Linked DNA regions of Homo sapiens: region 2 is linked to region 1. Evidence: fine-mapped expression QTL. Tissue or cell type: whole blood. Region 1 holds a variant in brackets; the other region holds the start of a gene. All regions are shown on one strand. Distances are between the middles of the regions.

Region 1 (7,536 bases):
AATTGCTTTCTTCTGTCCTGTTATTTCTCTACAAATGTATTGTTCTTTTCTGAAGATGGCATATAAGCCAGAGTTTGACGCCACTGCCTTGAAGTTGCCTTTCATTGGGGTTTCTCCTGCATTCTGTGCCCTCCACACATTAATAAACTTGCTTGGCCAGGCATGGTGGCTCATGCCTATAATCTCAGTGGTTTGGGAGTCTGGGGCGGGAGGACTGCTTGAGGTCAGGAGTTCAAGACCAGCCTGGGCAACATAGCATGACCCCGTCTCTACAAAAAATTTTAAAAAAAATAGTGGGACGTGGTGGCACATGCCTGTAGTCCCAGCTACTTGGGAGGCTGAGGAGGAAGAATTGCTTGAGCCCAGGAGTTCAAGGCTTCAATGAGCTGTGATCATGCCACGGCACCCCAGCCTTAGTGACAGAGTGAGACCCTGTATCTGAAGAGAAAAACAAAATAAAAAAACTTTGCTTGTTTTTCTTTTGCTGATCTGTCTTTTGTTACAGGGGTCTGTCCCAACTATGAACTTATGAAGGTTAAGAAGAAATTACATTTCCTCCCCAATAATGGGAATTATCAGACATCAATAGTCTACTAAGTCTCTCTTCACCCAATGGCAAAGCCTACTTGTCTAATAGCCACAGCAGCTAAGCTAATGGCTTCCACACACTTGTTTTTTTTTTGTTTTTGTTTTTGTTTTTATTTTTGAGACGGGGTCTCGCTCTGTCACCCAGGCTAGAGTGCAGTGGTGCAATCTTGGCTCAGTGCCAGCTACGCCTCCCGGGTTCACGCCATTCTCCTGCCTCAGCCTCCCGAGTAGCTGGGACTACAGGCGCCCGCCACTGTGCCCGGCTAATTTTTTGTATTTTTAGTAGAGACGGGGTTTCACCGTGTTAGCAAGGATGATCTCGATCTCCTGACCTCGTGATCCGCCCACCTCGGCCTCCCAAAGTGCTGGGATTACAGGCGTGAGCCACCGCGCCCGGCCGACACACTCTTGGTTTTAAGGTCTCTTTTAAATTTGATGGTCCTCCATGCTGTACAATATTTGTTGCTCACTGAAAATATACAACAATTCTCAGCAAGTAGGGTTGCCACCAATGAAATCCCATTACTTTCTCCCTCACCTATTTCTATTCATTATAATAATACTTTGACTCCTGCCACTCTCCCTTTGGATGTCATGTTCTCAATGAGGCCATTTGGCCCATTGATTCTGCCCTAGGAGGAAGAGTTAGATAATTAATTCAAGGAAAAGGAAAACTGTGCCTTAATTTAGGAACCAAAACCCTAACCACTCAAGGGAGTTCAGTGTTGCTTTCTTTCCTCCTCGAGCCTTTGCAGTTCATGCTTTGCAGAAGGCCTGGAAAGTAGGGAGAATCTTACAAAATGTGGGACTGAGGATTTGCTGCAGAGCACTATGAGATGTGAGAGAGGTCAAAGATGACCCCAAAGTTTCTTGCCCAAGCCACTGGAAGGATGGAGAAAACTGCAGGAAGAGCAGGTTTGAGAGTGCAGTGAAGACCACGAGCTCACTTAAGATTATGCTGTGGACACTTCAAAGAATAATTAAGGATATTAGGAAGCATCATCTTCCATGGGGCATAATATTCCATGCTATCCTTACATTAGCTTTAGTTGCTGGGCATTTTGATTTTTGATAGTCCTGGAATTAATATATTTGAACATTCAATTTTTGTCTAAATCTGTGACTACTTCCTTGGGCAGGGAATTACTGGGTCAAAGGGCATGATATATTTTTTAAGGACTAACAGCTTCCATAAAGGCTGTACCTTTCATTTTTTCCCCAGAAGTTTATGAGTGCTCATTTCAACACCAACATTGTTATTATTTTAAAAAGTGTGTTGATTGAAAGAGAAGTATTTTTTTATCTTTAAAATAATGTTTCTTTGATTACTAGTGAGGGAGAACATATTTCTATGTTTATTACCCATATATATTTACTCTTCTGTGAACTGTTTTGGGCTGTCGAGTTTGAGAACCCACAAGTCATCTGTGTGCTCATGTCTAACAAACATCCGGAAATCCTGCTGAGGAATTCTCACCATTCATGCCTTCTACTAAAGATCTAGTATCCTGGGATAAATCTGTACTGATCCCAGACATATCCATGGCATTTACTTTTTTTTTTTTTTTTTTACTAGATCCTTGATATTCTAGTAATTTGCTCTAAACATGAGATACTAGAAAATATCCTTATCAGAAGGTTTTAGCCTAGGCAACATAGTGAGACCCTATCTTTACAAAAATAGAAATTAGCTGGGCATGGTGGCGCATGCCTGTAACTCAGGAGTGCTGTTGCCATACTCCAGCTATCATGAAATGTATTTCGACGTGGAAAAAGTGGGAGTTTGGTAACAATGGGAAAAATTCACATCACCAGAGAACCAAAACAAAGCTAGACATTATCCAAGCTACTCTCTTATCATATTTTTGCCTAGAAAATGAGGGGGAGGAGGAAGGGGCTAAGAAGTGGAAAATGACTTAGGCTTTCCCAAGTTTTCTGCTAAAGATAGGGGAAATAGAGAATTCAGAAAGTAAACTTTAATTGCACTACCTAAATAGTAGCCCTGTGGTGTATTTCCTAAGAAATAAACAGGCACATTGAGCTATGTGGACGGGCAGCATGGTGCATGAAAAAGGTGGTGAAAAGGACTCCACAGCACCCAACTCCAGCTCTGCCTCTCACGACCTCCCAGGCATGAGAGATCCTCTGGGCAAAGGCGGCCTCTCTTTGCCTGAGTTTCTTACAGTAAAATAGAAGCGCTTTTTGGACATCATTATGTGTATGGCTCGTGGGCACAGAGCCTCTTGACAGATGACTCATGGAAGGGGAAGTGTAAATGGCCAACAAACATGTGAAACATGCTCAACATTACTAATAATTCTAAAATACCTATGCTGCCGGACTGTTGTGAAGGTTCAAGCTAACTCAAGTGGAGCATCCGCACAGAACCTCACACGTGTCAATTCAGTGAGTGACGGTTATAGGTCAGAGGTTGTTAATGGAATTTTGACAGCCGGGGAGTTTTAAATAATCTTTGACATGGGGCCGGTAACAATGAAATTAGGTAAGGAGAAGGGGATGGGGACTGTGATATTGTTAAATAAGTAAGTTGTGTGAGGGACTGATTTTGTGGATGCCATACTGAGCAGCACCCTCTCATGGGGAAAGTGAGGGATCTGGGTAGAAGCCGTGAGCTGGAAGTTTGACAGTAGTGACTGGTCAGGTATCACCTTCCCAGCATTAGCTGGATCGATAACAGATGCTTCATAAATTGTAGTTTCCCTTTCCAAGTGGTGATGGTAACTGACAGAGAAGCGTAAAGCCATGGCTATGAGAAAAGCTCGTAGACAGCTGATTCCCTAAGATGGTGCTTCTCTCTTGAGGGTGTCACCTCTCAAGAGATCAGGGTAAGGTCCTGAAGGGAGCATTGAAATAGAGTCCTTATCATTTCCCTCCTGGAATCAGAATTCTGATTTTTTTTTCTGATTTTAGAGGGGTAGTGATGTGGTCTGGGGCTTTGGCCTGTGTTCTGCATTCAGCCTGTCTTGCTCATTTGGATTCATTGCTCATTTGTTTACTCGTGACTATCTGCCTACACTCATGAATATTGAAACACCACTGTGTGCATATAGAGAATCTGGCCAGA[A/G]GATTGCAGTTCAGGGACTCCTTCTGTCTCACCCATGGCTGACTCCTCACTGGATGAGAAGGGCCGTACGTAGTGGCTAACTGCTCACCAGTTAGTAATTACTTCATAGAGTGTTGATGCATAGGGATCACTCACTCTTTTGGCCACCTCCTCAGGAAACTGTAGTACGTCTCAAAAGCAGCTTAATAGATTAAAATGTCCCCAGAATCTACTGACACCATCTTCTCAGCCTTCTCTGTTACAGATGATGACACAGACCTGTAAGGCCATTATACCTGAGGTAGGCCAGTAAGAGCAACGAGTGAGGATGTGGGGTGCACTGTATCGAAAGAGGCCAGTTCCCAGGTGCATCTCAATCTAAGACAAGCCAGGATGGCCTTGAATTAGGACTCAGGTGGGACAAATGATGACTTCACAGTGGCAGAAAGGACTTTCAAAACAAGAATAGATGAGCGAGGTGCATGCTCACAAGAAACATCATGGGTCCTCTGCAGTGCCCATCAGCACAAGGGCCCCACCAGCCTGCCTGGACATACAGGACAGCCTGCAGACCCACACCCCCAGGTGCAACACAGAAGGGTGCAACTGCTCTGGGTTCCAAGATGGGCAGTTCAGAGTCTGGTCAGGGCTAATACAAAGTTAAACCCACACTAATGGGCATGGTATAACAGCTTAATGACAGAACAAAAAACCTGGTTTTGAGGGTACAGGGAAATGGGTTCTTTTAAACATGATTGGTGAGAATATAGTTTAGTACAGCCATTTTGGAGAGCAGTTTGGTTAAAAAAAAAAAAAGATTAAAAGCCTTTAGATTTTATATACTCTTTGACCTTAATTCCACTTCTAGGAATTTTATACTGAATCACTAATTATAGATATGTGTAAAACTTTAGATATTAGCATGTTTACAATAATGAAAAACTGGAAACCACCGAAATGTCCAACAATGAATTGTTAAATAAATTGTGACACATCCAAACAATGCCACTCTGAAAAGAGGGATGTTCTAGAATATGTAATGATGCTGGCACTGCTGGCTGGGTGACTCAGCTCCCATCCCAACACCCTTCTTCCTTACCTGTCTCCAATAGAGAGGCCAGTAACACAAAATGCCTGCTTTCTCAGCCTCCCTGAGAGTTAAGAGCCACCTTGAGACCGTAAAGCAACACAGCCGCCTAAGACAGCAGGAGTGTCCTTGGCAACGTCCTTGAGCTGTTCCACTAGCCTAGACCTCCTACTTTCAGACTCCTGCCTCACGAGCAAAATACCCCATTATTTGTTCAAGCCACTGTTGACAGGGTTTGCTGTTACTTGTTTCAAAACACAATCCCAATTGATAAAACACATGGAAAGATGTTTACAGTCCATGAAGCCGGGGGAAAACACAGTCACGCACCGCATCACAATGTTTACATCAACAACAGACTGCATGTACGACAGTGGTTCCATAAGATTATGCTGTATTTTTACTGTACCCTTTCTGTTTAATGTATGTATGTATACATGTATGTACGTATGTGTGTATATATGCATTTATTTATTTATGAGTGAATGAATGAATTAATGAAGGGGTCTTGATTTGTTTCCTAGGCTGGAGTGCAGTGGTGCAATCATAGTTCACCGTACCCTTTCTATGTTTAGATCTACGTACCTATCTATCAATTATATGCCTATCTATCAGTTATCTATCTATCTATCTATCTATGAATGATGGGATCTCACTCTGTCTCACCCACACTGGAGTTCAGTGGTACAATCATGGCTCACTGCTGTCTCTAACTCCTGGACTCAAGTGATCCTGCCGCCTCAACCTCCTAAAGTGCTGGGATTACAGGCATGAGCCACCATACCCAGACCATATATTTAGATACCCAAATACTAACCATTATGTTCCAATTGCCTACAGTATCCAGTGCAGTCACATGCTGTACAAGTTTGTAGCCTAGGAGCAATAGGCTATGCCATACAGTCTAGGTATGTAGTAGGCAATACCATCTAGGTTTGGGTGAGTACACTCTATGATGTTTGCACAATGGCAAAATCACAAGACACATTTCTCGGAATGTATCCCATCATTAAGCAATGTATGATTGTATTACAGAACAAAAATATACCAACAGTTGTTGAAGAAAAATGTGAAGTATATTCTAAAATTATAATTGTGGTTCTGTCTGATGGTACGGTTATATGGGATTTTATTTTCATATTTGGGTTTATCTGAATTTTCAAAATTTTCTACAGCGAATATGTCTTACTTTCGTGATGAGAAAAAAATATTAAAAAATAAAACAAGGTAGATAAATAATTGGATAAATCTTGTGGTCAGGCAGCAATGAGTCCTTGACAATAGTTGCCAAGATAACTACTTTAAGGCTTCTGTTGCTTTCTGTCCAGGAGGTTCAGACTTCCCAGCTGGAGCCCTGGTTTTACAAGGTCCCACTGGCTTCTAACTAGGGCCACTGAGGTCCACCTTCACCAGCGGACACCGGCAGCTGCACCGGCCTAGGAGGCCAGAGGGGCTCTGAGCTCTTTGTGGTGCAGCTCCTTCTCCTGGTCATGGGCCTTGCTTCCCTCCTCCTCCTCCTGTCTCTCATCTCTTGCCTTCTTGGCAGAATCAAATGAAATAACCAATCTGAAAGTACTTCATACATTATTAGGTGTAAAAAATGGCAAGTTATTTTCCTTGTAACTCTTTCTTCTTCATTCTTTTCCCTCCTTGTTTTTAAGTCTTTCACTTTTCTCCTTTCTCTTCTACCCTTGTTCCTCTTTCCACTTCCCTCCTCCCTCCTCATCGGGTCATAATGGAGAACATTCTGGGCCTCCACAGCCTCATACCTCTGTCATTTCTCACAGGAGCCTGCCTTGTACTTATCTGTCCACGGGTCTCTCTCCTTTGCTCCGCGGTGAGTCCTCTGAGCAGAAACCATGTCTTTCAACCCCTAAGAACCTTTTCATGACACTGTCTCACAGTACTCACCTGGTCAGTACTTACTTGATATTACTAAAATTTCTTTTATTGTTTTGTTATCTAGGGAGAGCATAATAGTAACACAAACCCGTACATTTATTTGTAAAATCAGCCATCCATATATTTAAGTGGAAATTTGTTATTAGCATCTTAAAAATTTTTGTGAAGTCATTTTTTAAGAACCAACAACTGAGAATTGGTAGAAAGATAAGTAGTTTGAAAACAATATTTTTTCTTCCTTACTGCAGTTGTAAAATATTGAGAACTATATTCAGAATTGAAATGGAAACCTTAATAATGATAATGTGGAAAAAATGAAATGTTTTATGGTAAAATATTAGAACTAATTTGTATTTCAAATTTGTATTATCCACTAAAATGGTTAAAAAAATCTGCCAAAAAAAAATCTATGAGATGTCAGTCACATTAAAAGTGCATGTAGTTGGGCTGGGCACAGTAGCTCACGCCTGTAATCCCAGCACTTTGGGAGGCCAAGGCAGGTGGAACATCTGAGGTCAGGAGTTCGAGACCAGCCTGACCAACATGGAGAAACCCGTCTCTACTAAAAATACAAAATTAGCTGGGTGTGGTGGCACATGCCTGTAATCCCAGCTACTCAGGAGGCTGAGGCAGGAGAATCGCTTGAACCCAGGAGGAGGAGGTTGCAGTGAGCCGAGATCACACCACTGCACTGCACTCCAGCCTGGGTGACAACAGCGAAACTCCATCCCAAAAAAAAAAAAAAAAAAAAAAAAAAAGAAAGAAGGAAAGAAAGAAGAAAAAAGTGCATGTAGTTGGACCCTAATCCTGCCTCTCTTGCTTTGGCCAACTTGTCATCAAGTCATTGATTTTTCTCATTCATCTTGTCCCTTCCATTCTCACTGACATCATCCTT
Region 2 (7,536 bases), 33 kb after region 1:
AGGGATGAGGCAATGTGGTGTTGAAGAATAACTCTAGTCTGGAAATCTGGAGATCTAATCCTGACTCAGCCACTAATAACCACCAACATTCATCTGCCTAGTGTACACAGTTTACAAAGTGTTTTTACATACGTTCTGCATGGGTTGGGTGACCTTAGGTAAGTCATTTAACTCTTGGTGTCTTGTGTCAACTTTAGAAATGAGGGCATTAAACTATACCATCTGGGGTCACCTCCAGTGCTAACATCCTAAGCGAGGGAGACATGTGCCTTGGGACCTTTACAAATGTATCTGTAAGCAAATCAGGGCAGATGCATTCTGTTTTAAAAAACTATATTTTCTGGCCAGGCGCGGTGGCTCACGCCTGTAGTCCCAGCACTTTGGGAGGCCGAGGCGGGTGGATCATGAGGTCAGGAGATGGAGACCATCCTGGCTAACAAGGTGAAACCCCGTCTCTACTAAAAATACAAAAAATTAGCCGGGCGCGGTGGCGGGCGCCTGTAGTCCCAGCTACTCGGGAGGCTGAGGCAGGAGAATGGCGTGAACCCCGGGAAGCGGAGCTTGCAGTGAGCCGAGATTGCGCCACTGCAGTCCGCAGTCCGGCCTGGGCGACAGAGCGAGACTCCGTCTCAAAAAAAAAAAAAAAAAAACTATATTTTCTGTTCGGCTTCTGACAAATGTTACTCGGCTAAATTCAGGAATAGCTCATAAGACGTTTGCTGCCAGTTAGTTGGCTCAGTTTCTGGAGAGTACCACATTAAGACCCTGGGTTGGATTCTCATATGGGAACTTTCCTCCGTTCAATAGCCTCCTACTATGCCTAACTCCAGCCAGTCATCTTACAAATACAACCCCACAATGTGTGCTGGCGTGCAGGAAGGACTAGAAGAAACTCAGCTTCACAATGCATGCACTCTCAGGACGGTAGGTCAGAAACGGCATCATCACACAGGAATACTATCAATAGCATTCTTTCTCAGTTCCAAGATTCACAAATCCCTCCCTCAAGTCTTGCCATTTCCCGAGGGTTTTAATGTTTCTAAAATGAGGATGCACCTTGGAATCAGCATATATATTTTGATCTGGTAGCATTAGATTATTTTACCTAAAAGCTATTGGTAAATTGCTGGTGTGTCTTAGAATCAAGAATACAGTCCTACAAAACCTCAATACCATTACATAGATTTAGGTCTAACTTGGTTCAAATCATGTCCCTCTCCTTGATCTTAACAATTACATTCAGCAACAGCTGGATAGGCAATGTATAAGACAAGTATTAGTCCTGTTTCCTCATAGTAGCAGTTTAAAAGGCATTCCATCATTATCTCATAAAACACTGGTATGGATTTCAAAGGCAAATTAATCCATATAAAAACTACTCTGATCCTCTGAAAATGTACTATCCCATAGCAAACTGGAAAGGAACATTTTACTTACACCCTCCTGATCTATCTAGCCTTGACACATTTTCTTCCTCCTTAATTCACAACCCTCCACCCCAGTAATATCGCTGATTCCCAAAATACACTCAGCCCAGGAGGAGCAGCTCTCCAGTACAGCTGTCTGCTCCTGCCCTGCTCGGGTATTTTGGTGAGCTATGTGACACAGGACCACACAGAAGGAATGCCACTCTCAGGCCCCACAGTTCCCACTGCACCACAGGCAGGTGCATCCCACCAAACCCCAGTCTGGCATTCGAAACAGAAGAAACTGCCCTGCTGGATGGGGGCTATAGTTTTCCTGAACTTCATCTCTATGTTTAAAACTAGGGCGACAGCCGTCTTGGCTACTGTAAACTAATCTGATGGGCATGGGGGCAGGGAGTGGCTATGAGGAGGCTGCCAATAGGCCATGATTGAGCAAAGTAAAGAGTGAAATAGTTATTTCTCATTGTTTGCAACCCCGGAAACTCCAAATGAGTGGCTCCTTCACCATGATTTTTAGAAATGGACCATGCGTTCCTTTTACCATCTGGAGTAAAAATCCCAAAGCCTCTTGTGCGGTAGATCTGGCTTATATTTACACGTGCTTTCTAAAAGCACACTGAAATTTGGAAGCCAAATAAAAAAGAAGCTGACAATGAGGTCATATAGTAGTTAGGGGCCCTCAAGTTGAGACATGTTTATTAAGAGTTTCTGGCTCTGGGCACTAACTCTGACTTCAACTCAGTTCTTCTGGAAAAAGAAAACTGTTTGGGACCCTCTTCTATTCCAAGAACAGGGACTGCAAGATGGGCAGGTGGAGGGGTAGCAAACATAACCCAGGGAATTGTCCAAATATGCTAGAACCCCTATCTGGTGACAGCCCCACAAAGACACACAGCTGGAGGAGGCACAGTGTACAGGCCTCACACCTACACCATGGAGAAGCTTCGATTTTTCTCCTTCCTCTCAACTCTGCACACGTTATGTTAAAAACTCACTACTATCCAATTAGTTAATTTACAGGAATCCAAGATCAAGTCCTGCCACAGCCCCTTCATATATAAACAGTAAGCACTTCCTATGGATGGTATCAGGCCTTTTTCCAAACCTCACATTATACCAGGGTTGTAGTGCGATTTAAAAAAAAAAAAAAGCATTTTAAAGAGTTCCGCAAGATGCTTATTCACAACACCACACCGGAAGCGCAGGAACTTGGAGCTCCCAAACGCAACCTCTTCTCCCTTCCCTCCACTACTTCTACTCCCCGCTCCGCAACACCGGCCGGGCAGTAGCTCAGCCCACTAGAAGGCCACCAGGCACTAGCCGCGTTCATTAAACGCTAGATGATCACGATGGGGCTGAACCCTTCCCAGCCAAATCTATTCGGAAAGCCCTGCAAGCTCTGAGCAGCCAGTGAGAACTGTCCAGACCTGCTTCCCCAAACCAGCCAGGCAGGAGCGTGTGGGGAAGAAACCCGAGGCCCCCAGGCTGGGCCTGGCCCGATGTTCCCCCTCCCCCAAGTCTCCCCTCGCTCTCCTGTCACTCTTTTTCTGGCACATCACTGGGGAGATCCAGAGAGGCCGGGAGATGTCAGGCCTAGGAGGAGTGAGGAGGAGGGAGAAGGGATAAGGGCGGACGGGAGGTAGTTTGGAGAAAATATCAGCCCAGGGCAGAGGTGCGGTGGCCACGTCTAGTGGGGAAGGAGCCTCAAGGTGGACCCGGAGAGACGGAGGGAAGGGGAGGGGAGGGAAGGGGAGGGGGAGTGGCTGGGGAGGCCGGGCCGCCAAGGCCGGAGGGAACCCGGCGACAGGGATGGAGGGGGTTGACCGGCGCGGGGAAGGCGCGGTCGGGATGCGGGAGTGCGGGTGGGGAGGCAGGGGCGGGGGGAGCCCGGTTCCCCTCCCCCAGCCCGGGCCCTGGCCTCCCGCTGACTCAGCCCCACGGCGTCCGTCGCCTCGGCCCGGACTCACAGTGCACGAGGCGGCTCCGGCGGAGGCGGAGGGGGAGGGGACAGGTGGCGGGGGCGCTGCGGCAGAGGCTGCGGCTCCGGCCGGCGGCTCCGGGGCGGAGGGTCCTCGCTGAGGCCGCCGCGGTCTCCGGCTTCAACGCACAGAGACTGCGGGGGACGAGGGCACTGCGCAGGCGCGATGCGGCCGCCGCTGTCAGTCCGAGCGGGGCGGGGCCAGGGCACCCGCCGTCTCCAAGGCAACTGAGCCGCGGGAGGACAGCCCCTACCTCCACCTTGCCTTAGCGATTGCGGCGGGAGGCGGGGGGCGACAGGAACAGGCCCACTGCGTTGCCGTAGCAACGAGGAGAAGAGACCGCTTCAGACGTGTGCGGCGGTACCGAGGGAACGCGCCTACCTCGTCACCATAGCAACTGGGAACAGCCCCTTCCTTTTTCCCTGGCAACAGGGTAACAATCCCTCCGCCCTGTCTCATCACAGGAGGAACAACCGTGTGCACCTGATTTCAGTAGCTGGATGACGGATTTTCATCTTTTATGGCTACGGAAAAGGAAAAAGAGACGTTTTCTTCTCTTTCAGCGACATGGAAGAGCTAAGGCTGGGTTTTATCTCCTCTCTTGGTGTGTGGGTTCCAATCACAGTCTTTTTCTCTAATTCCCAAATTCATTTTTTTTTCTTTTTTTTTGGGACGGAGTTTCACTCTTGTCGCCCAGGCTAGAGTGCACTGGCGCGATCTTGGCTCACTGCAACCTCTGCCTCCTGGGTTCAAGCAATTCTCCTGCCTCAGCCTCCCGAGTAGCTGGGATTACAGGCGTGCGCCACAATGCCTGGCAAAGTTTTTGTATTATTAGTAGAGACAGGGGTTTCATCATGTCGGCCAGGCTGGTCTCGAACTCCTAACCTCAGGTGATCCACCTGCCTCGGCTTCCCAAAGTGGTGGGATTACAGGCGTGAGACACCGCGCCCGGCCCAATTTTTTTCTACCTGTTTTAAACATCCCCTTTCATCTCCTACCAGAGAGTGTGCCCTTTACCCTTAAATCGAGCTAACGAAATCGTCTATCCACAGACCACTTGAGTTTTTGTCAGCCTTATTGTCTCTCTCCCATTGCAAGGATAAACACCTCATTTCTTCATCTTGCTCACTATCTGGTTTGCAGTCCACTTCCTCATAACTAGCTCCCTCTGACATGTCCATTCGTTTTCCCGAATTTCCTCCTCCAAGCATGCTGTTATGGATCTCCTCGGTTCTTCTGGATCTCCCTTTCCTCTCCACACTTGCTGTCCTTGTCCAGCACTGCTCTGCCCGGGGCTCCAGTATGTTCTTTCCCCCTGTGACTTCAGCATCTTGGTTCTCTTTGTGCTGATGTCTTCTGGCTCTTCCTCCCTCAGCCCTGATTCCCATGGATGCCTTGAGGTCACCTTTGTACCAACCCTGTACATTCCTCCTTTCTTACACACACCTTACACTATCGTCATTTGTTTACGTGTCTGTGTCTCCAGACTATGTGACCCTGGTGGGCAGGAATTCTGTCTTTTTCATCAGCTCCCTCAGCATCCACCACAGCATGTGACACATAGCAGATTCTGAGAAATGCTTATGTAATTGAATCAAATGAAGACAAATCTTTTCCTTCTTCTTTTCTCTGGCCTAACTGCCTCAGAGTCCCAGTCCCCATTTCTAATACCTTTACACATAGTTTGTCTTTTAGTACTATGCTACTATTATAAGTCTTTCATCTCCTTAGCTTTCCATCCTGTTAATTGAGACTCTGGCATTCTCTATTTCCTGAATCCTCGCCTCTAGCTCTTCTCTCTTCTACACTATCCCAAATGTTTCTACTAAGGTAAATTTCCTCACTGGGTACCAACCCCGTGACTCCCATACCCTCCATAATCAGCGTAAGCTCTTCACACCTAACCATCCTGATCATCCCCTAACCAGCTCTAATCAAGCCTTCTTGGTGAACGTTACTGGATTCTGCTGGGCTTGTTGACATGCCAGAGATGCAGCATTCTCTTCAAACAACTCAAAAGCAAGAGCTCACAACCTAGCATTCTCTTCCAAATCTCCCTGTCTAGCTCCCACAGATTCCGCCGCAGGACTATTGGTGCCAAAGCACCCCAACTAAGCCCATTTTCTTGGGGAAAAAAGAAGAAAGTTACAAATAGAGTAAGTAAGAAAAGAGAGGGGACACAGCATATCCTCTCTTCTTCCACCTAAAGCAATTATCAGAAAGGAGAGAGCTCTTTGTAGACAATAATTCCCAAAACAAATCAAGGGGTTAGGAGAGTAAAAACCCAGGCTACACTTTTTTCTAGCCACAGAGTTGGACAACTGGAGCTGTTTCTAACTGCATCTGCAGGGTATCTGGGTGTCACCAAGGCAATAGGGAAGTCGCACGCTCAGTTTATCTTGCTTTCCCATTCTGAAGTTCCAGCTCAGCTTCATTGTTACAGGTATAGACTTGGGTGGTGTAGACTGTCCTGAGTAATCCTGAGAAGAAGCTATGATCCTTGTAACCCCACCCCTTTGTCATACACAAGGTAGAGGACCATTCTACAAAGAGTTCCTATATACCCTTCACCCAGATTCTCTACATATTAACATTTTACTATGTGCCATTAACTATTGCTACAAAATGAATCACTCCAATTCAGTGGTTTAAAGCAACAACCATTTCGTTATCTCTATTTCTGTGGGATGGGAATTCAGAAAGCCCGCAGTTGGATGGTTCTAGCTCAAGGTGTGAGTCAGAAGGTGGCTGAAACTTAAACAGCAGGGTGCTTGCTGGACGACTTTTTATGTTGTCTTAGTGCTTATAGATCATTTGTGTAATTTCTTTGCACGAATGTCTAGTCAAGTCCTTTGTCCATTTTTGAATCGGACCGTTTGTTTATTGTTGTTGAGTTTTAGGATTTCTCTATATATTCTGGATATAAATCCCTTATCAGATAATATATGATTTGCAAATTATTATTATTGTTATTGTTATTATTATTTTGGGCCAGAGTCTTGCTCTGTCACCCAGGCTGGAGTGCAGTGGCACGATCTCAGCTCACTGCAACTTCCACCTCCCAAGTTCAAACGATTCTCACGCCTCAGCCTCCCGAGTAGCTGGAACTACAGGCATGCACCACCACACCTGGCTAATTTTTGTATTTTTAGTAGAGACAGGATTTCGCCATGTTGGCCAGGCTGGTCTCAAACTCCTGACTTCATGTGATCCACCTGCCTCGGCCTCCCAAAGTGCTGGGATTAATGGCTTGAGCCACCCACCACACCCAGCCCCAGGACAGTTTTCTAATACTGTTAATTCCACTTCTTTAGCTTGTTTGTTTGTTTAAGACAGGGTCTTGCTCTGTTGCCCAAGCTGGAGTACAGTGGCGTGATCACGGCTCACCTACAGCCTTGACATGCTGGGCTCAAACAATCCTCCCACCTCAGCTTCCCAAGTAGCTGGGACCACAGGGGTGTGCCACCACACCTGGCTAATTTTCTTTTAGATTCTTTTTTTTTGTAGAGATGAGGTCTCGCTATGCTGCCCAGCCTGGTCTCAAACTCCTGGGCTCAAGCAATCCTCCAGCCTTGGCCTCCCAAAGTGTTGGGATTACAGATGTAAGCCCAGGGCCTGACCCTAATTCCACTTGTTGTTGTTGTCTTTGAGACAGGGTCTTGCTCTGTCACCCAGGCTGGAGTGCAGTGGTGTGATCATAGCTCACTGTAGCCTAGACTTCCTGAGCTCCAGTGATCCTCCCACCTCAGCCTCCTACATAGCTGAGACCATAGGCATGTGGCACATGCCAGCTAATTTTTGTGTTTTTAGTAGAGACAGGGTTTCACCATGTTTCCCAGCTGGTCTAGAACTCCCAAGCTCAAGTGATCCACCCACCTTGGCCTCCCAAAGTGCTAGGATTACAGGCGTGAGCCACCGTGCCTGGCCTCCACTTCTTAAATGCCTCTCAAAACTCTTCCCTTCTTTATCTGCTTCACCTTTACCATCTCTTGCCTGGGTTACTGCAGAGCTTCCCGCCTGCTCTCTCTGCCTTCAGCCTCTCTCATCTCCAATCCATTCTTTACACCATTGTCAGAAGGCTCTTTCTAGAAATAAATCTTATCACATAACTATCCTGCTTAAATCCCTAT

Evidence for each region. PIP is the estimated chance that this variant, and not a neighbour inherited with it, causes the effect.
Region 2: MAPRE3 starts here. The variant in region 1 is fine-mapped to the expression of MAPRE3 in whole blood (TOPMed, PIP above 0.99).

Annotation. Positions count from the first base shown.
Region 1 is chr2:26,999,352-27,006,887 of GRCh38, reverse strand. All of the region lies in intron 1 of MAPRE3 (microtubule associated protein RP/EB family member 3), which reads right to left. The region is part of intron 1 of MAPRE3-AS1 (MAPRE3 antisense RNA 1); the gene reads left to right. Among named protein-coding and RNA genes, the nearest start is that of MAPRE3-AS1, 11 kb to the left of the region's middle. The variant A/G (reference allele first, on the strand shown) is at 3,674.
Region 2 is chr2:26,966,661-26,974,196 of GRCh38, reverse strand. It overlaps MAPRE3 (microtubule associated protein RP/EB family member 3), which reads right to left and starts at 3,560. Exons shown (of 7, transcript NM_012326.4): 1 at 3,395-3,560. RefSeq lists a silencer at 3,346-3,675.